Homo sapiens: one gene and its partners. The protein of the gene in region 1 purifies or fractionates together with the protein of each later gene. This does not show direct contact. Each region holds a gene or a part of one and is shown in the gene's direction. Other genes may lie near its edges.

Region 1 (3,500 bases):
CCAGAAAAGGTTTATAGAGGAGGTGACATGCTTAATATGGCAGTTACATAATATGAAAATTTACTCCAGTATATAAAATAGCAAAATTGTTCCAGAATGTATTTGATGTTTGCCTAATTTTTTTTTTTCATCTTTTTAAATGAGGTCGAGGCTTGAAGAGTGGAGAGAACTTTAAGTTGTTATATGACTTGGCAGATCAACTACATGCTGCAGGTAAAGTTATTTTCCTTAGTAGAAAGATATTCCCTTTTTGTTGGAAATATTTTTTCTTCATTATTTCATTTTTGTGTAAGTCTTTCAGCCCTACAAATTATTTTACTTTTCCGGATTTTTCAGTTTTTCTCTCTGAACCAGTTTTTCTTAAGCCTCCAAGTAAATGGTATATAGCATTCAGTGAGGAGAAGGCCTCCTAGTATCTCTTACCTTTGCCTAATCTTAGTAGGTTTTCTTTTTTCTTCACTTTAAAAATAATGAAATGGGCCAGGCGCAGTGACACACACCTGTAATCCTAGCACTTTAGGTTGCTGAGGCAGGAGGACTGCTTGAGCCCAGGAATTTGAGACCAGCCCTAGCAATGTAGTGAGACCCCATCTCTACAAAACGTTTAAAAATTAGCCAGGCATATTGGTGTGTGCTTGTAGTCCCAGGTACTCAGGAGGCTGAGGTGGGAGGATTGCTTGAGCTTGAGAGGTGGAGGCGACAGTGCACTGTGGTCGTGCCACTGCATTCCAGTCTGGGCAACAGAGTGAGACCCTGTCTCAAAAATAATAAAAGACAAAATAATGAAATGTTAGTTTCAGTGCCTACTTCAGATTCAGGAATACCCTGGTTTTTCATCTTTTTTTTGGTGGTCTTAATATAACTCTTATACAAATAGAAATACATTTAAAGTTTTTAAGTTTGTAGTTAAAAATATAGAATTGTAGTTAACCATTTATAGGTAAGGTAGAACCTATTGCTAAAAGTACATTGATGAGAAGGGAGTGATGTTTTTTGAAAAACCAAAAAAATTTAAGCCAGGCACAGTAGCATGTGTCTGTAATCCCAGTTACTTGGGAGGCTGAGTTAGGAGGATTGCTTGAACCTAGGAATTTGAGACCAGCCTAGGCAACCTAATTGAGACCCTGTTTTGAAAAAAAATCTTTTTAAAGACATTTGATTATTTTTGAATTACACAATCACTACAATGAATATATATTAAAATGTCCCAATTCTGTCATCTCACCCTCCTTTTAAGACTTTAACATATAACTTTCGAGGGTTTTCCTGTAACTTTCTGTGGTTTTCCTGTGCGAAATTTCTATTACATAACACGTGTACCCATAGAAACAGTAATAGTTTTGTCAGAATAAAGGCATTATATTGACACTGTATAATCAGATGGTAGTATTTCAGGGTTTATTTTCATTCCTTCTTTCTTTGAACAAGTATTTATCAAGTGTCTGCCATATTCCAGGTACTATTTTAGGTGCTATTAGTTTATTTTGGCTACAGTAATAAGTTACTACAAACTTGGTGGCTTAAAGCAACAAAGTTTTTCTCTCACAGCTTTGGAGGCCAGAGATGTGTTGAAGTGTTAGCAGGGGCCATACTCCCTCTGGGGGCTCTAGGAGATAATCTGTTATTTTCCTCTTCCAGCTTCTGGTGGCTACTCTGATATCCCTGGGCTTGTGGCCACATCACTACAACCTCTGCCTCTGTCTTCATATCATCTTCTCTGTGGGACTGCATTCAGTCTCCTTCTGTGTCCCTCTTATAAGGATACATGGCAGGCGTGGTGGCTCATACCTGTAATGCCAGCACTTTGGGAGGCCAGGGTGGGCGGATCACCTGAGGTCCGGAGTTTGAGACTAGCCTGGCCAACGTGGTGAAACCCCATCTGTACCAAAAATATAAAAATTAGTTTGATGTGGTGGTGCACACCTGTAATCCCAGCTACTTGTGAGGCTGAGGCAGGAGAATTCCTTGAACCTAGAAGGCGGAGGTTGCAGTAAGCTGAGACTGTGCCACTGTACTCCAGCCTGGGTAACAGAGTGAGATGCCGTCTGGAAAAAAAAAAAAAAAAAAAAAAAGGATACGTGTAATGGCATTTAGGGCCCATGTAGATAATCCAGGATAAACTCCCTCTCAAGATCCTTAGCTTTATATATATCTGCTGCCACGTAGGTAATATTCACAGGTTCTGGGTATTAGGATGTGAATATATCATTGGAGGGGCCATTTTCTTGCCTACTACAGACACTTAACACCATAGATTAGTAAATAATATAATATGGGCCAGGCGTGGTGGCTTACGCCTGTAATCACCTGAGGTCAGGAGTTTGAGACCAGCCTGGCCAACATGGGGAAACCCCGTCTCTACTAAAAAATACAAAAATTAGCTGGGCGCAGTGATACGTGCCTATAGTCCCAGCTACTTGGGAGGCTAAGGCAGGAGAAACGCTTGAACCTGGGAGGCAGAGGTTGCAGTGAGCAGAAATCATGTCACTGCACCCTAGCCTGGGCAACAGGGCGAGACTCTGTCTCAAAAAAAAAAAAAAATGTTAGAGAGTCGTAAGTGTTAGGGAGACTAATAGGATGGGTTATGGGGGGTGGAGAATTGAAGGGAAAGATTGAAGTTTAAAATAAGATAGCCAGATTTGGCCTTAATGAGAAAGAGACATCTGGCTGGGTGTGGTGGCTCATGCCTGGAATCCCAGCACTTTGGGAGGCCAAGGCGGGCGGATCACTTGAGGCCAGGAGTTCAAGACCAGTCTGGCCCACGTGGTGAAACCCCGCCTCTACTAAAAATATAAAAATTAGCTAGGTGGGCGGATTTCTTGAGGCCAGGAATTCAAGACCAGCCTGGCCGACATGGTGAAACCCCACCTCTACTAAAAATACAAAAATTAGATGGGTATGGTGGCACGTACCTGTAGTCCTAGCTACTCAGGAGGCTGAGGCGGCAGGATCACTTGAACCATGAGGTGGAGGTTGCAGTGAGCTAAGATTGTGCCACTGTACTCCGGCCTGGGTGACAGAGACACTGTCTGAAAAAAAAAAAAAAAAAAAAGACATCTGAACAAAGGTTTGAAGGAGGTGAGGAAGCGACCCATGAGGAGATCTGAGGGAGAGTGTTCCAGACCAGAGCAACTAGTAAAGTGCACAGAGCCTGTCTAACGCAGGAACACATCTGGCCTATTTGACGAATAGGAAGGAGGCCAGTGTTGGAATGGAAAGTGCAAAAGAGAAAGTAGCAAGAGATAAAATTGGGAGGCAACACAAGACCAGATCACATAGGGCCTTATAGGACATTGTAGAGATTGCTCTTTCTCTGAATGAAATGGGGAACCATTTCAAGGTTTGAGCAGAAGAATGACATGATCTAACACATTTTTAAAGGATCACTTTGGCTGCAGTTTTGTGAATAAGCTGTAGGGGGTAAGTATAGTAATGGGGAGATCAATTAGCAGGCTATATCAGTCGTCTAGGTGGGAGATACTCATAGTTTGGACCAGGGT
Region 2 (2,798 bases), on another chromosome or scaffold:
AAAATTCAACCAACTAGCTCAGAAGAGGGGAGAAGGCCAAGGTTGAGAGAAGAGTCACAGCCTGTCAGGCAGATAGCTGGCCTCCGGCGGGAAGGCCATTTCCCTGAGCACTTGCAGAGGAAGACAGGGTGGTGGCAGGACTGGAGTGGCAGTGGCTCCCAAGGCTCTCTCCTCCAACATGTGCATCTGCCATCTGCTCTGCAGTCCTGCCGCAGGATTCCCTAGTGAAGCAGCTCAGGCCTGGGGGAGCCGTGTGTATCCCAGCTGTGCCGGCAGCATCATACCAATCGTGGGGGTGGTGAAGGAGCCAGGGGTTCATTCATGGTTGGTTTCTGATCAGGCATCTTGGGAATGGATAATGGAGGCAGCCGCTTTCAGGACAGGCATGTCCAGGGGCTCCTCCCAGCCTCTACCCCGAAGTCCTCTTCCCAAGTGACCCCAGTGATGTTTCCATTGAGATGCGCTCCTGGCTATGGCAGGCACCTTCTCAACTTATATGTGGGAAGGGGTCCCCCATGCTTGGGGGACCTAGGCAGCTGGCTTGGCCCAAGAGAGATGAGGATGGAGGCCAAACCAAAGGGGGGCGCCAATCCCCTGTCCAACACCTTCTCACCAAAAGCTCCCGTTTGGCTGGAGGCAGACCCTGTGGCTCTGACCAGACTTCTCTGGCAGCAATCCTCCACCATTTGTATCTTAAGAAGGCCCTCACCCTCTTTGAGTGGAGTCAGAGGATGCCTCAGATTCCAGATGTAAGCATCAGAACTGCTTTCTGTCAAGAGCTCCCTAATTTTGGGAAAGAAGAGCCTGTCCCACACTGTCAGGCCCTGAGGTCAGCAGATCTGCTCCTCCTTCCCGTGCGGTACGTCTAGGTGCTGATGAGGGCAGTCCAGGGCGCTCTTGTTCTGGGACAGGCTCCAGTCCCCTTGCTCCAGCAGGTCTGGGGCAAGGAGGTCAGAGGTGGTGGGAGGGCCCCTGCTCTCTGTTTCCACTTCGTCTGGATCCTTGCTGCTGCAAAGTGGCACTGATTCTAGCTCTGTCCCTTCCTCCTTGGCTTTCCGGCTCCGATGGGGCCAGTGGCAGGGTCCACTCCTACAAACTTGATTGGAAGCCACATTCCTCTGGCTCAAATATACTTCCAGCATGTAGTAAACAGTCCAGAAGACGGTGAAACAGCCTACCAGCACCAGGGTCTGGGGCCGAGGCAAGCACCTACGTGAGGCACTGTTTCCCGAAGCCTACAGCCTTTCTCAGCCCAGGACAATGAGCTCAGAAAGTCTTTTTCCTTCTAGGGACTGCCTTTTTCACCCAAACTGTTCCCTCTGCCCCCTCCCCCGACAAGGCCTGTCCTGTAAGAGTTAGGCTAGCAGGGTAGGAGCAATGCTATGAAACCACTGCTGGGACCCAGGTCTTCCCAGTCCTTCACCCCGCAGGTCACCCTGAGAAACACACTAAGAACTCCATCCCCCAGACAGGACAGTCCCATCTACCCGCAGCTTGAGTCTTGGCCCTAGTACCTTGAGGGTGTTGGGGGTGATGGTGTAACCATCTTCCTCAGGAATTTTCAGCCCCGGTGGGCAGGGCAGGGCGAAGTCATCGTGCAGGTATTTTCCACTCATGGCACTCTCTAACAGCCTGTGGAGAAGAAAAGAGGTGAGGATGCCCCACTGACTATGGTTCCTATACCATCTGCCCTCACCCATTTTCCTGCCTTACAGGTGAAGACAGGGAAGCCCCACAGCAAAAAGGAGAGGCCCAGACTGTGAGTTCCCAGCCCGGGGCTCCATCTACCGGCTTGACGCTGGAACTGGGAAGCACAGCTGGGGTTCAGAGGGCGATGGGCTCCCTAGGCGGCCCTTCCCCTGTGACTGGCCTTCCCTCTGACACATGCGGCTTTACCCACCTTTGTCTGTCCCTGATGTCTACTGCACTCCACACAGAGCCATATAGGGTCAGCTGCCATTGCCGGAGGATGCCGACCTGGAATGACTCATCCCCTAGGGCAGCAAGGGGCAGCTCGTGAGCCACGCCCCTCTGTCAGCCATGCCAGACAGCAGAGGCCCTGCCCGCCCTGCCACCCAAAGGGGCTCAGGCCACATGGTCTGCTCCAGGAGCTGCCTCACTGTGTCCCACTGACCCCAGGTTCTGCAGAAGGGCCTCACTGGGTGCCCTTAGGGATGGAAAGGGTTGAAAGGCTGTACTCCAAAGCAGAGTCTTGCTTTTCTCTCCCGTATTTTGGGGGTTCAGCTGGGATTAGAAAAAAATGTCTTTCCACCAAATTAAAGAAAGCTTTGAAAACCACTGGCCTAGAGAATACCTAACTGACTGGAGGATGGGAGGGTGGAGCTCAATTTCCAGTCTATAGGCTGATACTAAAGATATTCACAATTCATGGATATTGTGGCCTTCACTGATATGGTGACCTTCCACAAGTCACCTCAAACCTCTGGGCCAGTTTAAAAAAAATGGTGAAATGAGTCCTGCCCTTACCTGCCTACCGGGGCTGGCCGAAGGATGGTTATACGTAAAAGGACTTGAAATGTGGTTTCGACAAGGACTTTTTGTTGCTATCCTGAGGAAAGATGGATGGGTCACTCCTCCAGGGAATATGAGAGGTAGTATAAATGAACAGTTGCAGAGAGCAATGCCCATTTCACGGATGGGCACACTCTTGGCATCAACTCTCTTGGTCCAATGGCAACCCTATATATTGCACACGGGACACTTTCTGTGGGGACTCTGAGATGCAGAGGGACCAGATAACAAGCAGGAAAGGTAGGGCCTGGTGTGAGGGCACGAGA
Region 3 (3,500 bases), on another chromosome or scaffold:
AACATCAAAATTGGACAGTTTTCGGGCCAGGGGAACCTTAGAGGTCACCTAGTTTAAACAGCCTGTGTTTCATATAGGAAAACCTGAGCTCCAGAAGGGGAAGTGATCTCTGGGAAGTCTTGTAGCGATGGACACTGAGTTGGAGCAGGAGCTGCTGGGACCCCTCCCTGTCCCACGCCATTAGACCTGGGGACTGGCAGCCTCTGGCTAATTTGCCAGGCTCTAATTCTCTCCAACTGCACCCAGCCAGCACTGGTTTTGTGACAAGTTCCTGATTCCTTCTAGATATTTTGCATTATTGAAAGTGTTCCATAAAGTATATTACATTTGCTCCTTTTAAAGGTATATACAAAACGACCTCATATCAAAAACTGGGAGAACAGACGAAAAAGAAATCATGCCATAATCTTCCAGCTGTAATACAATCACAGGCAGCATTTTGGTTTCTTTTCGGTCACTTATGTTTCCTCTCCTAGCTCCTTTCTTACATTGCCTTGAACCTGGTTATTTGGGCACCTCGGGAACCTCCTCCCCTGCCAACACTGGCTAGCACTGAAGCCCAAGCACTGCTCTGTTGCTTCTTCCTGAGGGCTCCGTGTCTGAGCACCTTTCTGCTGGGTTGAAGTTGCCTCCTCATTGATTCTTTCCCTGTCATGGAGTCCCAGGGTATTCTGGGTGCTCCAGCAAGGGGGCGCTGTCTTGGAGAAAGTGAGTGGCTCAGATTGGTTTCCCAGGGGTGGAGCCTGAGGCAGGATTCTGCTGCCCTAGTTTACAGAGAAAGTGCTCTGTTGGGCAGCTGGATAGGGAAGGGAGGCTGCCTGCAGGTTGTCCTGCCTTCAGGCGAAGAGACCAAGCTTTGAGCTTTTGTACCCACTGTCAGGCAGCCATTGGTTCCCCTGGGGAAGGGGATGTTGTGCGACCTCCCGGGCCTCTGGCGGAGACACTCTGTTTTGAATTACGACCTGCAGCTCCCCTGGCTGAGGTGGGGAGGGGATGTGGACCTGCCTGGTGAACAACATCCAGACACAGCATGCACAGTGACTGCCATACCAAGCTGTTCACAGACTTCTCCTTTCCTGCCCCTGACAGTCTCTCCTGGGCACCTTGGAGCCATCTAACACGTGTGCCAGGCCTGGTCCTGCACCAGGGTACACCCTCTCTTATGTGGTCTGGGGCACTTCTCAGTCACAGGTGTAAGGATTCTCAAACAGGTAGATGGGAGTCCTTTCAGGGCCAGGGAGGGCACTGGTCCCTATGCCGTGGAGCTTGGCCTTGGGGCATGCTGTACCCCAGGCAGTTCAGATGACCCCTGGGGAGTCCCTCTTTGCTGAGGGGTGACTGTGGGAGGCCAGAGGCCAGCACTACCCTTGCGTGTGGATGTCCTGGGTCCCTCTCCCTGCCCCAGCAGGGGAAGCTGCAGCAAATCCCCTCACAGGCCTTCGTGGGTGAAGTTGGGCACTAAGGGTGAGGGATGCACGCTGAGCCAAGTCAGAGTGTCATCTGGCCTAGCTGGCTTCTGCTGGGCTCAGGGACCCTGAGCCTCTGGGACGGGCACGTCAGCAGGTCACATGCTGGAAACTTGCACAGGTGAGGCAACAGGGCCTGTAAGAAGTTGCCCCATAGTCAAAATAAAAAATTCACAAAGTGGAAACAACCCAAAAGAGGGAGTTGAATTCGACGGGAGGCCCCCAGTTTGCTCTTCTGTACCTCCTTCACTTGGCCTTCCCTGAGCCCACACCTGTACTTCTGCTCTTTTCGTTGAGAGTGTTTTCCCCTGTACCACTCAATTTGTGTGCATGCTGCATCCCCACACACCTAGGCCAAATCTCTGTCTCCTTCCTTATGCCTGGCCTTAGAGTCACAGGCTTTGGTCGATTGCGTTATCATCTGGGCCTATTTGATGGCATTTCTGGCAGTTAGAAAGTGGGGTGGAGAAACCAGAGCTCCCGCAGGGCCTGGGAGAGGGCACACGGTGAAGACCCGTCCTGCCTGAGCACCAGGGGACAAGCACTGATGGACGACACATATTTCACCGAGGAGGGCTGGAGAGTCACTGAATAAGAGGTGACAAATGTCTGTGACTCTTTTTATTTTTTGAGATGGAGTCTCGCTGTGTTGCCAGGCTGGAGTGCAGTGGCACGATCTCGGCACACTGCAACCTCCACCTCCCAGGTTCAAGCTATTCTCCTGCCTCAGCCTCTCAAGTAGCTGGGACTACAGGCACATACCCAGCTAATTTTTGTATTTTTAGTAGAGACAGGGTTTCACCATGTTGGCCAGGATGGTCTAGATCTCTTGACCTTGTGATCTACCCGCCTCAGCCTCCCAAAGTGCTGGGATTACAGGCATGAGCCACCACACCCACCTGTCTGTGACTCTTACTATGAGCCAGGCACTACTTGAGGTCCTGGGATGTGACAGTGAAGCAGCAGGAGATGCCCTGCTCTCAGGGACTCACAGTTGATTGCCGGAGTTAAACGGTTAATTAAGATGAGATCTGTGGATGCATGTGAGGCAGGAGTAAGTCCTGAAGGAAACAGAACTGCAAGGCATGGAATGTGTTTTGGGGAGGGCGCTCAGCATAAGCCTCCTGGGAGTCGAACTAGGAGTGGAGTGGGGTTGAGTTGGAGGGGACAGCAAGTGCAAAGGGCCGGAGGAGAGATAGAGCTTGTCAGAAGTGCGCAAAGGCAGCACGTTTGGCCAGGGCAGCAGGGCTGGGAGGGAGGGTGGAGAGGTTGGCAGGGCGGGGCCATGTGGGACCTTGTGGGCTGTGGTTAGGAGACAGGAAGGAGAATGCCAGGTCAGATGTGGGCAGGGTTAGACTGGGCCTGGTTTTTGGGCCTCGTTCTCCCTGGCCCCTGAGGGCTGTCTGTAGCTGTGGCCCCTGCAGGGCTGGACCGGGCCTTGCTCAACTCCCTTCACCAGGCCCGCAGCAGGGAAGTGCCAGGAAGTGTCTGTGGACCTGGGTTGACTTGGGCCTTGGGTGATTTTCTTCCTGCTTCCTTTGTGGGTCCCCCACTCTGCCTGAGCTCTGTCAGCCCCACGAGGTGGCTTCCGCTCTGTAGACACTGCCTTTGGGCACCGTTAGGGGCTGGACCCCGCGGGTGGATGGGAGGTGGCGTGTGTCATCCACCACCCTCACCCATCCTTGTTCTTTGTGCAACTCTCACTTCTCTTTTCTTTTCACTGTTGCTTTCTGGCCTGACCCAGGTCCCTGAGTTCCCCTATGGCCTGCCTGCCTCCTGTTCCTGTGTTGTGAAGAGTGGGGAGCACCCCCTCAAAAGCAGTGCCTGCCAGACGCCAGCACATTCTGTGTGCCAGTGGGGCCTCATGCGACAGTGGGAATGAGAAAAATTCACTCTTTCAAAACTCACTGTCAGTCCTTTAATTTTCCTCAAAATAAAAGTTTTCTTCTGGTGTCTGTATGTGGTTTACATATTTTTTTATTTTAAATTGTGGTAAAATATATATAACATATAATCGACCTCCTTAACCATTTT
Region 4 (3,500 bases), on another chromosome or scaffold:
GGCCTCCTTTTCTTAAAGCAGTGTTTTGGTTTCTCCCACAGTATTCTGAAAAGGAGGACAAATATGAAGAAGAAATTAAACTTCTGTCTGACAAACTGAAAGAGGTGAGTGTGGTGGCACCCAGCGAGCTCTGGTTTCTCCTGGGGCTGGTCTTGAAGCCATGATAGTAACTCCTTTCTTCTTATCTAGGCTGAGACCCGTGCTGAATTTGCAGAGAGAACGGTTGCAAAACTGGAAAAGACAATTGATGACCTGGAAGGTATGAGGTTACCATCTAAATGTTTGCCTTGCCCTGCCTTCCCCTCTGGGACACATCCACGGACAGTTGGGGAATGTTTGTGGAGGGGCTGGGTTGGGCTTTGTTTGCCTTAGGAAAGTAAAGCGCATAGTGATGTCATATCTGGATGTCCTGGAACACTGGAATAGGATAATGCAAAGCATTCAGGCTTGAATGGCCCTTTTTTTTTTTTTTTTTTTTTTCTATGAGACGGAGTCTGGCTCTGTCTCCCAGGCTGGATGGAGTGCAGTGGCGCCATCTCGGCTCACTGCAACCTGCGCCTCCCGGGTTCAAGTGATTCTCCTGCCTCAGCCTCCCAGGTAGCTGGGACTACAGGCGTGTGCCGCCACACCTGGCTAATTGAATTGCCACTTTCAGGAGGTAAAATATCTCTGCTTAGTTAGTCCCATGAGCAAGTATAGAGAAAAGAGTATGGCTCTCTCTGATTAAAAAAATATTAATAATAAATTAAAAATCTCAGGCCAGGCGCAGTGGCTCAAGCCTGTAATCCTAGCACTTTGGGAGGCCGAGGCGGGCGGATCACTTGAAATCAGGAGTTTGAGACTAACCTGGCCAACATGGTGAAACCCCGTCTCTACCAAAAATAGAAAAAATTAGCCAGGCGTGGTGGTGCACGCCTGTAATCCTAGCTACTGGGGAGGCTGAGGCAGGGAGAATCCCTTGAACCTGGGAGGCGGAGGTTGCAGTAAGCCAAGATCACGCCACAGCTCTCCAGCCTGGGTGACAGAGCCAGACTCCGTCTCAAAAAAAAAAAAACTTCACAATTTCCTTCTGTTTGCTCATTTCTGATAGATGCCTTGCATTTTTTTTTTACATGCCTTGCATTTTTGCAGAAGCTCTGTCCCAGGGAGCTCAAAGCTTATCATAGTATTTAAAAAAAAAAACAGAAATACAGAAAGTGTAGGGACTGCAATAAAGACTAGTCTGCAAGTCTGGGGCCCACTTCTCCCAGAATTTTTTCAAGAGTTCCAGTGTTTAACATTCGGCCTCAGAAATTCCAGAATCTTGGGGTTCAAATGGAATCTTCCAAACTGCCCATCCCACCCAGAAAGGACACATTCTTCAGACCATATCTTCCAATGTTTTTTTGGGGAAGTGAGGTTCCCATATAAGGGAAAATGCCCCATTCCAAAATACGACCTTTGGACAGGGTGACGTCATTGGAAATCCGAAATAAACTGAGGGGTGGGGACCAGTGGGGGGAAGCTCTGTCACTTCTGGTTACCACTGTTTTGAAGCTTCATTGTGGCTAATCCCCCTGCAGAACCTCAAACCACTTAGAGATCAACTCCATAGATCTTTGGTTTTCTTCATCTGTTTCACATGGAACACAGCTTTCTCCTAGTCTGTGCTTTGTTTGCTCACGTGTTTTTTTCTTCCTCTTGTGGTTCATCTGTGGCACTCCATTCCGACCCTTGCCTTCTGTCCCCTGTACTTCTGAACTGTCTCCCTGGGGACCTCCGCCCTCTAGATGAGTTATACGCTCAGAAGCTCAAGTACAAAGCTATCAGCGAGGAACTGGACCACGCTCTCAACGACATGACCTCTCTCTGAGAGGCAGCCAGGTCGCTGCCCTCTGTCCTTCTCACATGGTGCCTCCTACGCCCCTGTGGGCTTCTAGGAGCTCCGGTGGCCTGCCTTCTGGTTTGAACGTCAGAGCCTTCTTCTGATGTGTCTGTGACTCTACAACCGAAATAAAGACGGGCAGTCCTCCTCTTCATGCCCCCTCATTCTCATTTTCTCCACTTGCTGCCTTTGAGCTGTAGCTGTGTGCCCTTAACCATAGCCTGAAACACAAAGTGGGTGGTTAGCCTCTCTCACTCACAAATGAAAAGCTTATTACAAAAAGAAAATTATGCCTACAGGATGCTTTTCTGAAGACGTGAAAACAAAAGCAAACTGGGCATGTGCTCTCAGATACCGCTGTTAGCTAACGGCATCTGCATGCCAATAATTTTTTTTTGTTTTTTTGTTTTGAGACAGGGTCTTGCTTTGTCACCCAGGCTGGAGTGCAGTGACACCATCATAGTTCACTGCAACCTCCACCTACAAGGCTCAAGCTATCCTCCCACCTCGACCTCCCAAGTAGCTGGAACTACAGGTGTGCACCACCACACAAGGCTAATTTTTGTACTTTTTTTTTTTTTTTTTGAGGCGGAGTCTCACTATGTCGCCCAGGCTGGAGTGCAGTGGTGCAATCTCGGCTCACTGCAACCTCCGCCTCCCGGGTTCAAGCAATTCTCCTGCCTCAGCCTCCCAAGTAGCTGAGATTACAGGCATACACCACCACACCTGGCTAATTTTTCTTTTGGATTTTTAGTAGAGACAGGGTTTCACCATGTTGGTCAGGCTGGTCTCAAACTCCTGACCTTGTGATCCGCCTGCCTTGGCCTCCCAAAGTGCAGGGATTACAGGCTTGAGCCATCACGCCTGGCCATTTTTGTACTTTTTGTAGAAGCGGGAGGGTTTCACTATGTTGCCCAGGCTGGTCTTGAACTGCTGGGCTCAGGCAGTCTGCCCACCTCACCCTCCCAGGGTGCTGCAATTACAGGCATGAGCCACCGCGCCCATCCCCAATGGTTTTTCCTTAAATAGAAATTGTTGTGAATGGAGGCTCATCCTTGTAAACCGCTTAGGCAGCTTAAGAGTCAACAGGGATTTGGAAAAACCAGCAAGCCTGTGTCAAAAATGAGGCTCCCCTTGAATGGGGCTTGAGCTACAGATTCAAACAGCGGCAGTGACATTTTGATCTCCATTTCCTCCTTTTCTTGTGTCTTTTCTCTGTGTTACACTGTGAGTGTGGTGACTGGGGCTTCCCGTGGCTTTACTCTTCACTGTTCATCCAGCTCCCAGTCCTGGGAGGAAGTTCACCTCCACGCCCTGCCCTTAGAAAACTGACTGTACAAGGAGTGAACGGGCCTCCATGAACAGGGAAAGTGCTGTGACGTCAGAAGACGTGAATTTAGAATTCTTTTCCCGAATTCCAGAATTGCCTGAGACTGCTAACATCAATCTCCATTCATATTTCAGTTAGTTATAACAGGAACCTTGCTTTAGTTTAGAATAGCTCTTAAGGTTGACCTGTGGGTAATAAAAGGTCATGCTTTTTCCTACATGAGGAATATGGAGAAAACAAGGTCACTCTTTTTTTTTTTTTTTTTTTTTTTTTTTTTTTTTTCAAGACAGGGTCTCACTCTGTTGC

What was found.
Region 2: the proteins of ETFA (region 1) and TAGLN fractionate together in Homo sapiens (co-fractionation; one large-scale study listed by BioGRID). This does not show direct contact.
Region 3: the proteins of ETFA (region 1) and NUP210 fractionate together in Homo sapiens (co-fractionation; one large-scale study listed by BioGRID). This does not show direct contact.
Region 4: the proteins of ETFA (region 1) and TPM4 fractionate together in Homo sapiens (co-fractionation; one large-scale study listed by BioGRID). This does not show direct contact.

What each region holds. Positions count from the first base shown.
Region 1 is NC_000015.10:76,280,470-76,283,969, reverse strand, and holds part of ETFA (electron transfer flavoprotein subunit alpha, mitochondrial), read left to right. Parts: intron 1-144; coding exon 145-213; intron 214-3,500. UniProt on the Homo sapiens protein: Heterodimeric electron transfer flavoprotein that accepts electrons from several mitochondrial dehydrogenases, including acyl-CoA dehydrogenases, glutaryl-CoA and sarcosine dehydrogenase.
Region 2 is NC_000011.10:117,205,167-117,207,964, forward strand, and holds the end of TAGLN (transgelin), read left to right. Parts: 3' UTR 1-830; coding exon of another isoform or gene 831-1,190; 3' UTR 1,191-1,514; coding exon of another isoform or gene 1,515-1,632; 3' UTR 1,633-1,900; coding exon of another isoform or gene 1,901-1,994; 3' UTR 1,995-2,298; downstream 2,299-2,798. Other genes in the region: PCSK7 (proprotein convertase subtilisin/kexin type 7 preproprotein), read right to left, coding at 831-1,190, 1,515-1,632, 1,901-1,994. UniProt on the Homo sapiens protein: Actin cross-linking/gelling protein. Involved in calcium interactions and contractile properties of the cell that may contribute to replicative senescence.
Region 3 is NC_000003.12:13,413,823-13,417,322, reverse strand, and holds part of NUP210 (nuclear pore membrane glycoprotein 210 precursor), read left to right. Parts: intron 1-3,500. UniProt on the Homo sapiens protein: Nucleoporin essential for nuclear pore assembly and fusion, nuclear pore spacing, as well as structural integrity.
Region 4 is NC_000019.10:16,093,495-16,096,994, forward strand, and holds part of TPM4 (tropomyosin alpha-4 chain), read left to right. Parts: intron 1-41; coding exon 42-104; intron 105-189; coding exon 190-259; intron 260-1,769; coding exon of another isoform or gene 1,770-1,852; exon of another isoform or gene 1,853-3,250; intron 3,251-3,500. UniProt on the Homo sapiens protein: Binds to actin filaments in muscle and non-muscle cells. Plays a central role, in association with the troponin complex, in the calcium dependent regulation of vertebrate striated muscle contraction.